4 linked regions of the Homo sapiens genome follow. The protein of the gene in region 2 purifies or fractionates together with the protein of the main gene of each other region. This does not show direct contact. Each region holds a gene or a part of one and is shown on either strand. Other genes may lie near its edges.

Region 1 (3,500 bases), on a different chromosome or scaffold from region 2:
TGTGCATTGCCTAGATGGATGATGCTGACCCTGAGGAAAGAAACTATGACAACATGCTGAAAATGCTGTCAGATCTGAATAAGGACTTGGAAAAGCTATTAGAAGAGATGGAGAAAATCTCAGGTAGGATGTGTGAACCCAAAAGTATCTGAGACAGGTCTCAATCAATTTAGAAAGTTTATTTTGCCAAGGTTAAAGATGCACCTGTGACACAGCCTCAGGAGGTCCTCAGGACATATGTTCAAGGTTGGCAGGGTACAGCTTGCTTTTATACATTTTAGGGAGAGAGAATACATCAGTCAGTACCTGTAAGATGTACACTGGTTCGGCCGGGCGCGGTGGCTCACTCCTGTAATCCCAGCACTTTGGGAGGCCGAGACGGGTGGATCACGAGGTCAGGAGATCGAGACCATCCTGGCTAACACAGTAAAACCTCGTCTCTACTAAAAATACAAAAAATTAGCTGGGTGTGGTGGCAGGCACCTGTAGTCCCAGCTACTCGGGAGGCTGAGGCAGGAGAATGGCATGAACCCGGGAGGTGGAGCTTGCAGTGAGCCGAGATGGTGCCACTGCACTCCAGCCTGGGCGACAGAGTGAGACTCTGTCTCAAAAAAAAAAAAAAAAAAGATGTACATTGGTTCGATCTGGAAAGGTGGGACAACTCAAAGGGGGATGATTCCAGGTTATAGATAGATTTAAATTTTTTCTGATTGGCAATTGGTTGAAAGAGTTATGGTCTAAAGACCTGGAATCAATAGAAAGGAATGTCTGGGTTATGACGGTAAGGGGTTGTGGAGACCAGAGTTTTATCATGCAGATGAAGCCTCCGGGTAGCAGGCTTCAGAGGGAATAGATTGTAAAAAGCTTTCTTATCAAACTTAAGGTCTGTGTTCATGTTAATGCTAGTCACCTTTTCCTGAATTCCAAAAGAGAGGCAGGTATAACGAGGCATACCCAATTTCTCCTTCTCCTCACGGCTTGAACCAACTTTGGCCAAGCAATACACCCACCTTGGCCTCCCAAAGTGTTGGGATTACAGGTATGAGCCAGCGTGCCTGGCCAAATAGCTTTTATTCACTAGAGCAGACTTTAGAAAATTTCTCCTTAGAAATGTTTGCAATTTTTTGCCTATGTACTTTTGAACTATGAATAGCTGAGACACGTATCAGTTAATTTAGAGAGTTTATTTTGCCAAGTTTGGGGACACTTATCTGTGACACAGCCTCAGGGGGTCCTAATGACATGTGCCCAAGGTGGTCAGAGCACAGCTTGGTTTTATTTATTTATTTATTTATTTTAAGACAGAGTCTCGCTCTGTCGCCCAGGCTGGAGTACAGTGGCGTGATCTCGGCTCACTGCAAGCTCCGCCTCCCGGGTTCATGCCATTCTCCTGCCTCAGCCTCCCGAGTAGCTGGGACTACAGGCGCCCGCCACCACGCCTGGCTAATTTTTTGTATTTTTAGTAGAGACGGGGTTTCACTGTGTTAGCCAGGATGGTCTTGATCTCCTGACCTCGTGATCCGCCCGTCTCGGCCTCCCAAAGTGCTGGGATTACAGGCGTAAACCACCGCGCCTGGCCTTGTATTTTTAATAGAGACAGGGTTTCACCATGTTGGCCAGGATAGTCTTGATCTCCTGACCTTGTGATCTGCCCGCCTCAGCCTCCCAAAGTCCTGGGATTACAGGTGTGAGCCACCGCGCCTGGCCTTTTTTTTTTTTTTTTTTTGAGACGGAGTCTTGCTCTGTCGTCCAGGCTTGAATGCAATGATGTGATCTCAGCTCACTGCAACCTCCGCCTCTCGGGTTCAAGTGATTCCCCTGCCTCAGCCTCCTGGGTAGGTGGGATTACAGGCGCCTGCCACCATGCCCAGCTAATTTTTGTATTTTTAGTAGAGACGAAGTTTCACCATTTTGGCCAGGCTGGTCTCAAACTCCTAACCTCAGGTGATCCACCTGCCTTGGCCTCCTGAAGTGCTGGGATTACACGCGTGAGCCACCACGCCCAGCCAGCAAACAGTTTTATGTAGTGAAAAATCTATCAATATTTTCCTTTCTGATTTATTGCCATTATTTTGACACCTAGAAAGTCTTTCCTCAATCTGAGATCAGTGAAATATTTAGTTGTATTTTCTTCTACTTTTCTCCGTATTCCTTTTTAACATTTAATCCTAACCCATCTGGCATGCCAAATGACCTACGCTGCGTATTGCTTTTTTTTTTTTTTTGAGACAGAGTCGCGCTCTGTTGCCCAGGCTGGAGTGCAGTGGCACAATCTCGGCTCACTGCAAGCTCTGCCTCCCGGGTTCACGCCATTCTCCTGCCTCAGCCTCCCGAGTAGCTGGGACTACAGGTGCCCGCCACCATGCATGGCTAATTTTTTTTGTATTTTTAGTAGAGATGGAGTTTCCCCGTGTTAGCCAGGATGGTCTCAATCTCTTGACCTCATAATCTGCCTGCCTTGGCCTCCCGAAGTGCTGGGATTACAGGAATGAGCCACCGCACCCAGCCGCATATTGCATTTTTATATAAATCTGCTACAGGCTGGGCACGGTGGCTCACACCTGTAAACCCAGCACTTTGGGAAGCCGAGGCAGGAGGATCACAAGGTCAGGAGTTTGAGACCAGCCTGGGCAATATGGTGAAACTCCATCTCTAATAAAAATACAAAAATTAGCTGGGCGTGTTGGTGGATGCCTGGAATCCCAGCTACTCAGGAGGCTGAGGCAGGAGAATCACTTGAACCCAGGAGACGGAACTTGCAGTGAGCCGAGATCATACCATTGCACTGCAGCCTGGGTGACGGAGCGAGACTCTCTCTTCTGTGATAGTCCCTGGGCATAGAGGGAGGGTGTTTGTATCGTTTTAGCAGCAGGGCATTTGCAGTGTAACAGATCCGGGCCCAGTGCGATGCCAAATGAGGGAGATTCATATCTTTGGTCATCTGCAGAATACCATGATTTTAGTTTCCTTGGAAGCAAAATGAGGGGAGATAAGTTTGACAATTATAAGAGTAATTTGTGCATTAGAACAGAAAAAGGAACCTATTCCATTAGGGCACCAACGAAAAATATGAGGAAAAGTTACAATCTGGTCCTCTCTAGAGGATTATTGTAGCCAAGAAACAATGATTTAATTTGCACTCAAAAAAACGTTATGGCTGGGCGCAGTGGCCTGTAATCCCAGCACTTTGGGATTTTATTTATTTATTTATTTATTTTGAGACAGGGTCATACTCTGTCACCCAAACTGGAGTGCAGTAGTGCAATCTTGGCTCACTGCAACCTCCACCTCCCAGGCTCAAGGGATCCTTTTTTTCATCTCAGCCTCCTGAGTAGTTGCAACTACAGGTGCACACCACCATGCCCAGCTAAATTTTGTATTTTCTGTAAAGACAGGGTTTCAACATGTTGCCCAGTCTGATCTCAAACTTCTGAGCTCAAGTGATCCACCCACCTCAGCCTCCCAAAGTGCTGGGATTATAGGTACCAGCCACCTTGCCC
Region 2 (4,098 bases):
TTTAGTTTCACATAATAAAATTAGTTAAAATGTACTTATACTATCATAAAATCCCCTGCAAAAAAACTTTGCTTTTCTCCTGTTAATCTAAATTGAGGTTAGTTTTTAATTTGTTTGTAGATGCTTATGGCTAGACTTAGAATTGGCAATCCCCTCAGCTCTAGTTTTTAGAATATGAGTTACTCAAGGTCAAGGCCAGGATTATAGCTAGACTTAAGTACATTTAAATGTCAGAGCCACTGCCAGAGGCTGCCCTGTGTCATCAGATGGCTTGGTCTACCCTCTGTCAGGCTTGTAATAATTGCCCAAACCTTCTAAATTAAGTATCTTGTCTGAGGAAGTTTCTCTCTCACACATATTGACACTCATATTTTCTTTTAGAATCTTTTGAAGACTGTTGTTAAAAAAAGTCAAAACTACAACATATTTCAGTTGGAAAATTTGTATGCAGTAATCAGCCAATGTATTTATCGGCATCGCAAGGACCATGATAAAACATCACTTATTCAGGTAAACTCTTGAGTGGAAACTTTTTACAAATGCTCTTGTGGTCACATTAATATATCACTTATGTAGGATTGTTGAGGCTTTATTTAATCTGTGTAAGAAACTGATTGTAGGAACTTAAAGACCATCTTTCTATTTCCAAAGTTGATGTCCCATTCCATAAAGATCATTTTTAATATGTGGATTATGAATTATTTCTAAATGCAAGTGAGTTTAGTATTTTTCCAATCTATAACTTAATTAGTTTGTTTGTTTATTTATTTATTTATTTAGAGACAGGGTCTCTGTCGCCCAGGCTGGAGTGCAGTGGTGCGATCTCAACTCACTCACTGCAGCCTCCACCTCCAAGGTTCAAGCGATCCTCCTGCCTCAGCCTCCCAAGTAGCTGGGACCACAGGCACCTGCCATCATGCCCAGCTAATTTTTGTGTTTTTTGTAGAGATGAGGTTTCACTATGTTGCCCACGCCGATCTTGAGCTCCTGAGCTCAAGCCATCCAGCCACTTCAGCCTCCCAAAGTACTGGAATTACAAACGTGAGCCACTGCACCCAGCCAATAGTTTGTGTCTTTAATAAATAGTGGAACATAAACTATGAATACCCCTTTTGTGTGTATGTATTAATGAAGAATAATAGCTTCTTTTAAGACTTGTCAGCCAGGCACAGTGGCTCATGCCTGTAATCCCAGCACTTGGGGAAGCCAAGGCGGGTGGATTGCTTGAGCCCAGGAGTTCAAGACTAGCCTGGCCAACATGGTGAAACCCCATGTCTACTAAAACAACAAAAACTAGCCAGATGTGGTGGTGTGCACCCATAGTCCTAGCTACTCGGGTGGCTGAGGCATGAGAATCACTTGAACCTGGGAGGCAGAGGTTGCAGTGAGCCAAGATCAAGCTACTGCACTCCAGCCTGGCTGACAGAGTAAGACTCTGTATGACAAAAAAAAAAAAAAAAGACTTATGTACTTAATCTTCCTTTATAGTAGGTATTATAGTGTTAATTAGAGCATTAATACTTATTTTTGAGACAGGATCTTTCTCTGTGTGCAGTGGCAAGAACATAGCTCACTATAACCTGGAACTCCTGAGCTCAGGCAATCCTGCCTCAGCTTCTCAAGTAACTGAGATTATAGGCAAGCACCACCACACTGGGCTAATTTTTAAATTTTTTGTAGAGATGGAGGTTTTGCTATGTTGCCTAGGATGGTCCCAAATTCGTAGCTTCAAGCGGTCCTCCCGCCTCAGCCTCCCAAAGTGCTGGCATTAACAGGCAGGAGCCACCATGCCTGGCCTTATTATTATTTTTAATAACAGATCATTTCACTAGAGAGTGCTAAATTTTAAAAAAAGATATTACTTACATATGCATATTATTGGTAACTACAAAATATAAAAATGATAACCATTAGTATATATATAGTATTTAGTATACCTACTAAAGTATACTATGTAGTATATATATAATATTGATACCTACAAAGTGTAAAATACTAAACTCTAACTACATCAGTACCTTGATTAATACTATTTGAATTTAACATAAGATGAATGCACCCCAGACTCATTTCAAAGTTATTTAAATAATGAAGTCCTACAGGTAAAATCTATGTGGCAGTCTTAAATACTGAACTGAATGTTTATTTTCACTATCAAATATATACCTGAATATTAATATTCTTAAGGTTGTTTACTGAAAAAGTAATGAAATGTTTCTTTAGCTTATTCCATATTGAAACTTACTATTTGCTCTTCCTCCCCTTTATCTAGAAAATGGAGCAAGAGGTAGAAAACTTCAGTTGTTCCAGATGATGATGTCATGGTATCGAGTATTCTTTATATTCAGTTCCTATTTAAGTCATTTTTGTCATGTCCGCCTAATTGATGTAGTATGAAACCCTGCATCTTTAAGGAAAAGATTAAAATAGTAAAATAAAAGTATTTAAACTTTCCTGATATTTATGTACATATTAAGATAAATGTCATGTGTAAGATAACTGATAAATATTGGAACTTTGCTAGAACAAGACCCTGTAGTAATAGTAATAATAGTTGAAGTTTGGCCAACTCTTAATAAAGTTATTTTGGTAACTAATGTTTTATGGCACTTAAGAATAATTAGCAGCGTTAAATTTTGTTTGTATTAAGCACTTTTAATTTTATCCTTCCTAAAAATAGTTTATTGTATCTGACAAGAAACTTACTTAACCATTGTGTCCTTCCCATCTTTTTTGTCATCTTTGTTTTCTTCAAATGCCCTCCTCCCATCTGCCTTGAGATTCCCTCGTCTTCACTTAAAAGCCAGAGTGCAAGTCATGATTTGCGGGAGGGCTCTTGAACCACTTCTGGCTGCACCACAATTCTGTACTTGAGTATCACAGTCATTGTTTTTGAGACAAACATTTTTATAATTCTAATTTGGGTTAATAAAGATTTTAAATATTTCTTGGTTTACTTTTGTAATTATATACACAACAAATGTATTAATAACTACCTTGTTAAACACCTTTTAATAGCACAAGGTTTTTATATTTGCAAGCTGTTGATATCTTTCTAAAACTGTTTAGGTTATAGTCTATTGATACTTTTTATATACAATTTTATAAATATAAATATTATAATTTTATATTAATGGTACCAAAAATACATTTCTTAAGGTTAAAAGCATGCACTTCCATGCATACTTGCTTTTGGGGAGAGTGGGGAGAAGACATTCTAATAATCAGTTTGTGAAATAGCTTCTGTTGGAAACCTTTTGAGGGGAATAAGGAATGGTCATCTAAAATGAGAGATTCTGGATTTTAATGCAGTTCAAAGTTGAGCTGTATTTTTGTTGTTGATTTATCTGGATTTTTTTTAAAGCCTTCTAAAACCCAGTGAATTCAATACCTTAATTAGTACATACTATCTTATGTAATGCATAAAGCAATGCCAGTCACTGAGAACATTTAAATATATTTATATTCCTGGAGATACACATTCTCATTTTTGTTGGTTTATTATAAATTATTCTTCTAGATGCATCTTTTATAACTAGGATTTCATTTTGTGTGTATAGCTTATGTAATAAATTTTAAAGGTGAAAACTCTCTTAAATTTGTTTCTATTTCTTAAGTATTTTAAAACATAGCAAAGATAATTCTGTGCAAAAGAAGTGTAAAGTCTGTTCTTTCATATATTACTGTGAAAATTTAAAGTGCTGTTGACACTGGAATGTTTTTATATGGTACATGTATTTTAGGTACAACGACTAAAGTGCTTCCTGAAATGTCTTCTACAGATTTTAGAAGTGTTATGTCTACATTCCTATGTAGAGTTTGAAAACCATGCTGAAATTGCAGTGTTGAATGTTATCTCCCATTTGTTGCTCAAAAGTGCAGTTAACGCAAGAAAAACAAAAGGAACTCAGAAAGGAAAAAGTGAAATTCTCTTTATTTACAAATGCCATGATTTTATATGTAGGAAATCCTTTTTTGAGACAGAGTCTTGCTCTGTCGCCTAGGCTGGAGTGCAATGGCATGATCTCGGCTCACCACAACCTCTTCCTCCCAGGTTCAAGCGATTCTCCCGCCTCAGCCTCTTGAGTAGTTGGGACC
Region 3 (4,009 bases), on a different chromosome or scaffold from region 2:
CTTTCTTTCTTTCTTTCTTTTTTTTTTTTTTTTTTGTGACAGGGGCTCTCTCTGTCTTCCAGGCTGGAGTGTAGCCGCGCAATCTTGACTTACCACAACCTCCACCTCCCAGTCCTCGAACTCCTGTGCTTAAGCGATGAGGCTGGCTTCGTCCTCCCAAAATGTTGGGATTACAAGCGTGAGCCAGAGCCCTGCCTTAAAATTAAAAAAAAAAAAAGTTTATATCTATTTATTTATTTATTTATTTATTTTGAGATGGAGTCTCGCTCTGTCACCCAGGCGGGAGTGCAGTGGCGCGATCTTGGCTCACTGCAACCTCTGCCTCCCGGGTTCAAGGGATTCTCCTGCCTCCACCTCCCGAATAGCTGGGACTACACCTGTGCCCCACCACGCCCGGCTAATTTGAGACAGTGTCTCTCTCTGTCGCCCAGGCTGGAGCGCAGTGGCGTGACCTTGGCTCACTGCAGCCTTGACTCCTAGGGCTTAAGCGATCCTCCCACCTCAGCCTCCTGGGTAGCTGGGACTACAGGGGCAGCTCACCTCCCAGTCCGCGAACTCCTGTGCTTAAGCGATGAGGCTGGCTTCCTCCGCCCAAAATGTTGGGATTACAAGCGTGAGCCACAGCCCTGCCTTAAAATAAAAAATAAAAAAAAGTTTATATTTATTTATTTATTTACTTATTTTGAGATGGAGTCTCTCTCTGTCACCCAGGCGGGAGTGCAGTGGCGCAATCTTGGCTCACTGCAACCTCTGCCTCCCGGGTTCAAGCGATTCTCCTGCCTCCGCCTCCCGAATAGCTGGGACTACACGTGCGCCGCACCACGCCCGGCTAATTTGAGACAGTGTTTCTCTCTGTCACCCAGGCTGGAGCGCAGTGGCGTGACCTTGGCTCACTGCAGCCTTGACCCCTAGGGCTTAAGCGATCCTCCCACCTCAGCCTCCTGGGTAGCTGGGACTACAGGGGTGCTCCACTGCTGCCCCGCCATTTTTTTTTTTTTTTGTAGAGACAGGTTTTCGCCATGTTGTCCCGGCTGGTTTCGAACTCCTGGGGGGGCCCAAACAGTTCACTCGCCTCGGCCTCCCAGTGTGCTGGGATTACAGGCCTGAGACGCCGTACCGGCTTGGTCTTCATCTTGACTCTAGTTAGGGCCAAGAGACCTCTGAAGAACTGAGGCTGCCCTGTTAGAGAAAGCCTTCCCCTCCCTGAGACCCGCCAGGCTGAAATGAGAGGCAAGCCAGTTTTATAGTTCCGCCTAGGGCTTTCCAGGGTTAAAAACATGGATTGTCCCTTCAGTCCCCGCTGAGGGTTCTTACCTTTACTCCGGATCAGTTCTAAGACTCACGCTAGGCCACGAACCTGACTGAAGCTATTGCACCCGTCAGGCCAACTGCCTCACTTTCAAAGCGGAAGTGAGGCTGAGCCACACCCCGCTCGGGGTCTCCGAGGGCTGACAGCAGCGGGTGACACGCTGGGACCCCACTGTTCTGGAGTCAGTGGTCCCTAGGTCCTTATTCAGGGTTCTCACCTTGATACTAAGCGGAGCAGAGTAACACCTCTACTGAGCGAAGTCCGCCAACCTCCAAAATCCTCCCCTCCCATAGTCCCTAGAGGGGAAGTCTAGGCATGTTATCGGACCATGTCCTGGGGCTTCAAAGACCTGAAACAGGGTTAGGGCTTTTGGTGGGCCCTTCTTTTGGAGAGAGGTTCCCTGGTTAGCACCGGTGGGCCTCATATTTCTTTCTTTCTTTCTTTCTTTTTTTTTTTTTTTTTTTTTTTTTTGTGACAGGGGCTCTCTCTGTCTTCCAGGCTGGAGTGTAGCCGCGCAATCTTGACTTACCACAACCTCCACCTCCCAGTCCTCGAACTCCTGTGCTTAAGCGATGAGGCTGGCTTCGTCCTCCCAAAATGTTGGGATTACAAGCGTGAGCCAGAGCCCTGCCTTAAAATTAAAAAAAAAAAGTTTATATTTATTTATTTATTTATTTTGAGATGGAGTCTCGCTCTGTCACCCAGGCGGGAGTGCAGTGGCGCTATCTTGGCTCACTGCAACCTCTGCCTCCCGGGTTCAAGCGATTCTCCTGCCTCCGCCTCCCGAATAGCTGGGACTACACGTGCGCCGCACCACGCCCGGCTAATTTGAGACAGTGTTTCTCTCTGTCACCCAGGCTGGAGCGCAGTGGCGTGACCTTGGCTCACTGCAGCCTTGACCCCTAGGGCTTAAGCGATCCTCCCACCTCAGCCTCCTGGGTAGCTGGGACTACAGGGGTGCTCCACTGCTGCCCCGCCATTTTTTTTTTTTTTGTAGAGACAGGTTTTCGCCATGTTGTCCCGGCTGGTTTCGAACTCCTGGGGGGGCCCAAACAGTTCACTCGCCTCGGCCTCCCAGTGTGCTGGGATTACAGGCCTGAGATGCCGCACCGGCTTGGTCTTCATCTTGACTCTAGTTAGGGCCAAGAGACCTCTGAAGAACTGAGGCTGCCCTGTTAGACAAAGCCTTCCCCTCCCTGAGATCCGCCAGGCTGAAATGAGAGGCAAGCCAGTTTTATAGCTCTGCCTAGGGCTTTCCAGGGTTAAAAATATGGATTGGGCTCCGAGAAGTCCCCTTATTTGTGGGTTTAGTTTTCCCTTTTTTACTCACTCAAGAACCTCACTTCGCTGCTGGCCAGTCCTGGGACTCCACATTCCATGCCATGAATCCTGCTCAGATCAAGGTCCTCCGAGATCTAGGCTGAAGTTTTGATGAGCCACATTAGGCCAGGGATGTTTGGGTCCTGTGAGGGCAGACAGCGGAGTCGGGTTTCTATGGGACATCACTGTTCTGGCTCCTCCTGTTCTTCATTCAAGGTCCTCCCTGATATCTGCCAGACCCTGGATCCTCCCTCTAGTTAACTGAGGTCACCTTAGGTCAAAACTCTCACTTCACTGAGAACTCTGAAGGGTAAAAGAGAGGATGCTCAGTCTGACTGCACTGCCTGGGGCATTCTAGGCTGAGAAGAGGTTTGGGTAGATTGCCCCGTTATCTTTTGGTGTGGTTGTCTTTCCAGTATTTATTTATGGGTGTCCTCCTTATTTTCTCTTGCCTCTCTGAATAAAGGCTTCCTGGGAAATGCCACATCCCTGCAAACTCTTGGGCAGCGTTCCTACTGCAAACCTTGCAAGTCTGTGCCCCAGGGCTAATGTGAGGTAAAGAAATTATAACACAAAGCAGGGAGTCCAAGGTAGCTGGTGGGTTGTCAGAGAAAAATGATGCTGATTTACTCTTTTCAATAGCCAGCACTAGCCTCTTATGTGACTTCTGTTTTAATTGATTTACTTCTTAAGGGGAAGGAGCTGTTCAAGATGATTGTGTGGTCCCTGATTTTGAGGTTATCTGACTGTGCATATGTAGATGATCATATTGTCACTGAATAATATCTCTTTCTCCTCTTTATTTGTAGCTTTCATTTATTTTGATATTCTTTATTGCTTTGGCTATGTATTCCAATCCAATTCTTTGGGCACAGAATCCTTCTTTTTAACCCCTGAGATATATTTGGAAGTATTGAGAAGAAAAGTGAATTAAAGAACACAAAGTCTGCTCCAGGCAGAGAGGAACAGAATGAAGAGTGTGGGCTCTAGAAGAATTCACAACAGGAGTCTAGTCCCAGCCCTGTCACTTACTCACCCTGTGAACTTGAGCATATTACCAAACTCCAAACAAAGAAATTATAATCAAACAAAATGCTGCTTAGCAAGGAAAATTATATAATTTATAAAGTGTTTGTGGAAGAGCCTTCTCCAATTGGATACAACTCAAGTCTCAAAATTTTTGTCAATGACCAATATTTTTTTCTAACTCCTAGGCACCCTTCTATGTTAACCACTCCTGTTTTGATTTTTATTATTTATTTATTTTTTTTTTTTGAGATGGAGTCTCACTCTGTCACCCAGGCTGGAGTGCAGAGGCACTATCTCGGCTCATTGCAACCTGTGCCTCAGGGCTCAAGTGATTCTCGTGCCTCAGCCTCC
Region 4 (3,500 bases), on a different chromosome or scaffold from region 2:
ACTCTGTTGCCCAGACTAGAGTGCAGTGGCACGATCTCGGCTCACTGCAAGCTCCGCCTCCCGGGTTCATGCCATTCTTGTGCCTCAGCCTCCTAATCAGCTGGGACTACAGGCACCCCCCACCACGCCCGGCTAATTTTTTTTTCTATTTTTAGTAGAGACGGGGTTTCACTGTGTTAGCCAAGATGGTCTCGATCTCCTGACCTTGTGATCCGCCTGCCTTGGCCTCCCAAAGTGCTGGGATTACAGGCATGAGCCACTATGCCCAGTCGAGAATCATCTTAAATTTGCTGAAGTGCCCAGGCATGGTGATGTGCACCTGTGGTTCCAGCTACTTAGGAAGCTGAGGTGGGAGGACTGCTTAAGCCCAGGAGTTCAAGTCCAGTCTGGGCAACATAGTGACACCCTATCTCTTTAAAAAAAAAAAAAAAAATCTGGCTGCAGTGTTATAAGTAGAGACATACGTGTATGATTTCATCTCTAAATATAATCTTTCTTTAGAATTATACATGGGACACAAATCACCAATACAGCAGGAACTCATAGCTATGAGTACAGGACACAGCTGTACACATGACGTGTGTACCTAACCTTCTGAGCAATGTCAAGGCAACTCAACTGTGTCCCATGTTATCTCTCTGCGCTAACTTCACAAGCTAGTCCCTGTGCAAGACATACCTCCACTGTGTGTTTGTGTGTATATATATATATATATATATATAAATGATAAGACTAAAGACATGTACACAATTAGTATAGCTGAACTAGCTAAAAAGTCTGCTTCCTGCTTTTTTGTTGTTGTTTTTTTGAGACAGTCTTGCTCTGTCGCCCAGGCTGGAGTGCAATGGCGCAATCTGGGCTCACTGCAATTTCCATCTCCCGGGTTCAAGCGCTTCTCCTGCCTCAGCCTCCCAAATAGCTGGGACTACAGGCACCTGCCACCAAGCCTGGCTAACTTTTGTATTTTTAGTAGAGACAGGGTTTCACCACATTGGCCAGGCTGGTCTCAAACTCCTGACCTCAGATGATCCACCTGCCTTGGTCTCCCAAAATGCTGGGATTACAGGGGTAAGCCACTGTGCCTGGCCATTTTTTTTTTCTTTTTTTTTTTTTGAAACAGAGTCTCGCTCTGTCACCCAGGTTGGAGTGCAGTGGCACAATCTCAGCTCACTGCAACCTCTGCCTCCCGGGTTCTAGCGATTCTTCTGCCTCAGCCTCCTGAGTAGCTGGGATTATAGCTGCGTGCCACCATGCCTGGCTAATTTTTGTATTTAGTAGAGCCGGGGTTTCACCACGTCGGTTAGGCTGGTCTCGAACTCCTGACCTTGTGATCCATCCGCCTCGGCCTCCCAAAGTGCTGGGATTACAGGTGTGAGCCACCACACCTGGCTTTTTCTTTTTTTTTTTTTTTGAGATGGAGTCTTGCTTTGTTGCCCAGGTTGGGGTGCAGTGGTGCAATCTCGGCTCGCTGCAAGCTCTGCCTCCTGGGTTCACGCCATTCTCCTGCCTCAGCCTCCCGAGTAGCTGGGACTACAGGCGCCCGCCACCACACCCGGCTAATTTTTTGTATTTTTAGTAGAGACGGGGTTTCACCATGTTGGCCAGGCTGGTCTCGAACTTCTGACCTCAGGTAATCTGCCCGCCTTGGTCTCCCAAAGTGCTGGGATTACAGGCGTGAGCCACCATGCCAGGCCTCCTTTGTTTGTTTGCTTTTTGCCTTTGTTCATAATCAAAGATGAGCTCTGCTGCCATAACAACTTCGTTATTTCTGGGTCAGAACATCTGGCTTCTATGACTTATTCAACCAGTGTCTGTTGAATTTCTCAGCTAAATGTGGAAGAATCTATTTCCAGATGTGGAAGATAAAAGTGCAAAGGGGGCTTGGGGCCCCTGAGAAATAGGGGTCACCCAACTGGGGCTTAGGGGTTAGGGTGGTTTTTTTTTTTTTTTTTTTTGAGATGGGGGTCTTGCTCTCTCACCCAGGTTGGAGTGCAGTGGTGCAATCATGGCTCACTGCAGCCCTGACCTCCTGGGCTCATGCAATCCTCCCACTTCAGCCTCCTGAGTAGCTGGGACCACAGACACGTGCCACCAAGTCCCGTTAATTTTTTGATGTTTCTGTAGAGACAAGGTTTTGCTATGTTACCCAGGCTGGCCCAAATTCCTGGGCTCAAGAGATCCTCCTTCCTTAGCCTCCCAAAGTGCTGGAATTACAGGCATGAGCCACCTCACACAGCTGGGTTGGGGGTTTTGTCAGATTTTCAGTTGACGCTGCTGAGAGTGAGGCAGATTCTCCCTTTTTCATGGAGAGGAGTCCAGAAGGAGGCAGAAAGCAAGCTGGCAGATCAGTCACAGAGAGCCCTAGGACTGGAAGAGCCAGGATTTCTCACTTGAGTTACTCAAAGGAAAAGCTTTATCATCCAGGTACAATTAACAATAGCATTCTCTGGCCAGGCGCTTAGGATTCAAAGTGTAATCCCAGCACTTTGGGAGGCTGAAGTGGGCATATCACTTGCGATCAGGTTTGAGACCAGCCTGGCCAACATGGTGAAACCTCGTCTCTACTAAAGACACAAAAATTAGCCGGGCATGGTGGCTCAAGCTTGTAATCCCAACTACTTGGGATACTGAGGCCGGAGAATCGCTTGAACTCGAGAGGTGGAGATTGCAGTGAGCTGAGATTGCACCACTGCACTGTAGCCTGGGTGACATAGTGAGATTCCATTTCTAATAATAATCATCATCATCATCATAATCATACGACGGGCACGGTGGCTCACGCCTGTAATCCCAGGCCGAGGCGGGCGGATCACAAGGTCAGGAAATCGAGACCATCCTGGGTAACACAGTGAAACCCCGTCTCTACTAAAAATCCAAAAAGTTAGCTGGGCATGGTTTCGGGCGCCTGTAGTCCCAGCTACTTGGGAGATTGAGGCAGGAGAATGGCGTGAACCCGGGAGGCGGAGCTTGCAATGAGCCATGATCACGCCACTGCACTCCAGCCTGGGTGACACAGCGAGACTCCATCTCAAAAATAAATAAATAAATAAATAAATAAATAAATAATAATAATAGCACTTCCCTTCACTGCATTTTGAGTGTCCTGATTAGGCAATAAATTCTGTGGTCATTCCTATCTATGCTCCACCCCTGAAACAGGGAATCCTTCCTTTCTTTCCCTGGATTGGAGCAAAGATAAAGAATTTAGATTCAAAACTTCAGTGCCAATACTTCTACAAACTGGCTGTGTGACTCTGGTGAAGTCACTCCATTTCTATTAAAAAATGATCAGCAGAGGCTGGACGCAGTGGCTCACGCCTGTAATCCCAGCACTTTGGGAGGCTGAGGCGGGCGGATCACCTGAGGTCAGGAGTTCAAGACCAGCCTGGCCAAGATGGTGAAACCCCGTCTCTACTAAAAATACAAAAATTAGCCAGGCGTCATAGCAGGCACCTGTAATCCCAGCTGCTCGGGAGGCTGAGGCAGGAGAATCGCTTGAA

Evidence for each region. The genes of interacting proteins can lie anywhere in the genome.
Region 1: the proteins of ATAD2 (region 2) and SYCE3 purify together in Homo sapiens (co-immunoprecipitation; one large-scale study listed by IntAct). This does not show direct contact.
Region 3: the proteins of ATAD2 (region 2) and MAGEB3 purify together in Homo sapiens (co-immunoprecipitation; one large-scale study listed by IntAct). This does not show direct contact.
Region 4: the proteins of ATAD2 (region 2) and ASF1B purify together in Homo sapiens (co-immunoprecipitation; one large-scale study listed by IntAct). This does not show direct contact.

Annotation. Positions count from the first base shown.
Region 1 is NC_000022.11:50,552,920-50,556,419, reverse strand, and holds part of SYCE3 (synaptonemal complex central element protein 3), read left to right. Parts: intron 1-14; coding exon 15-123; intron 124-3,500. UniProt on the Homo sapiens protein: Major component of the transverse central element of synaptonemal complexes (SCS), formed between homologous chromosomes during meiotic prophase.
Region 2 is NC_000008.11:123,319,350-123,323,447, reverse strand, and holds the end of ATAD2 (ATPase family AAA domain-containing protein 2), read left to right. Parts: intron 1-381; coding exon 382-510; intron 511-2,272; coding exon 2,273-2,314; 3' UTR 2,315-3,598; downstream 3,599-4,098. UniProt on the Homo sapiens protein: May be a transcriptional coactivator of the nuclear receptor ESR1 required to induce the expression of a subset of estradiol target genes, such as CCND1, MYC and E2F1.
Region 3 is NC_000023.11:30,229,448-30,233,456, reverse strand, and holds the start of MAGEB3 (melanoma-associated antigen B3), read right to left. Parts: upstream 2,801-4,009; 5' UTR 2,640-2,800; intron 1,941-2,639; 5' UTR 1,839-1,940; intron 1,391-1,838; exon of another isoform or gene 1,315-1,390; intron 631-1,314; 5' UTR 541-630; intron 196-540; 5' UTR 94-195; intron 1-93.
Region 4 is NC_000019.10:14,130,090-14,133,589, forward strand, and holds part of ASF1B (histone chaperone ASF1B), read right to left. Parts: intron 1-3,500. UniProt on the Homo sapiens protein: Histone chaperone that facilitates histone deposition and histone exchange and removal during nucleosome assembly and disassembly. Cooperates with chromatin assembly factor 1 (CAF-1) to promote replication-dependent chromatin assembly.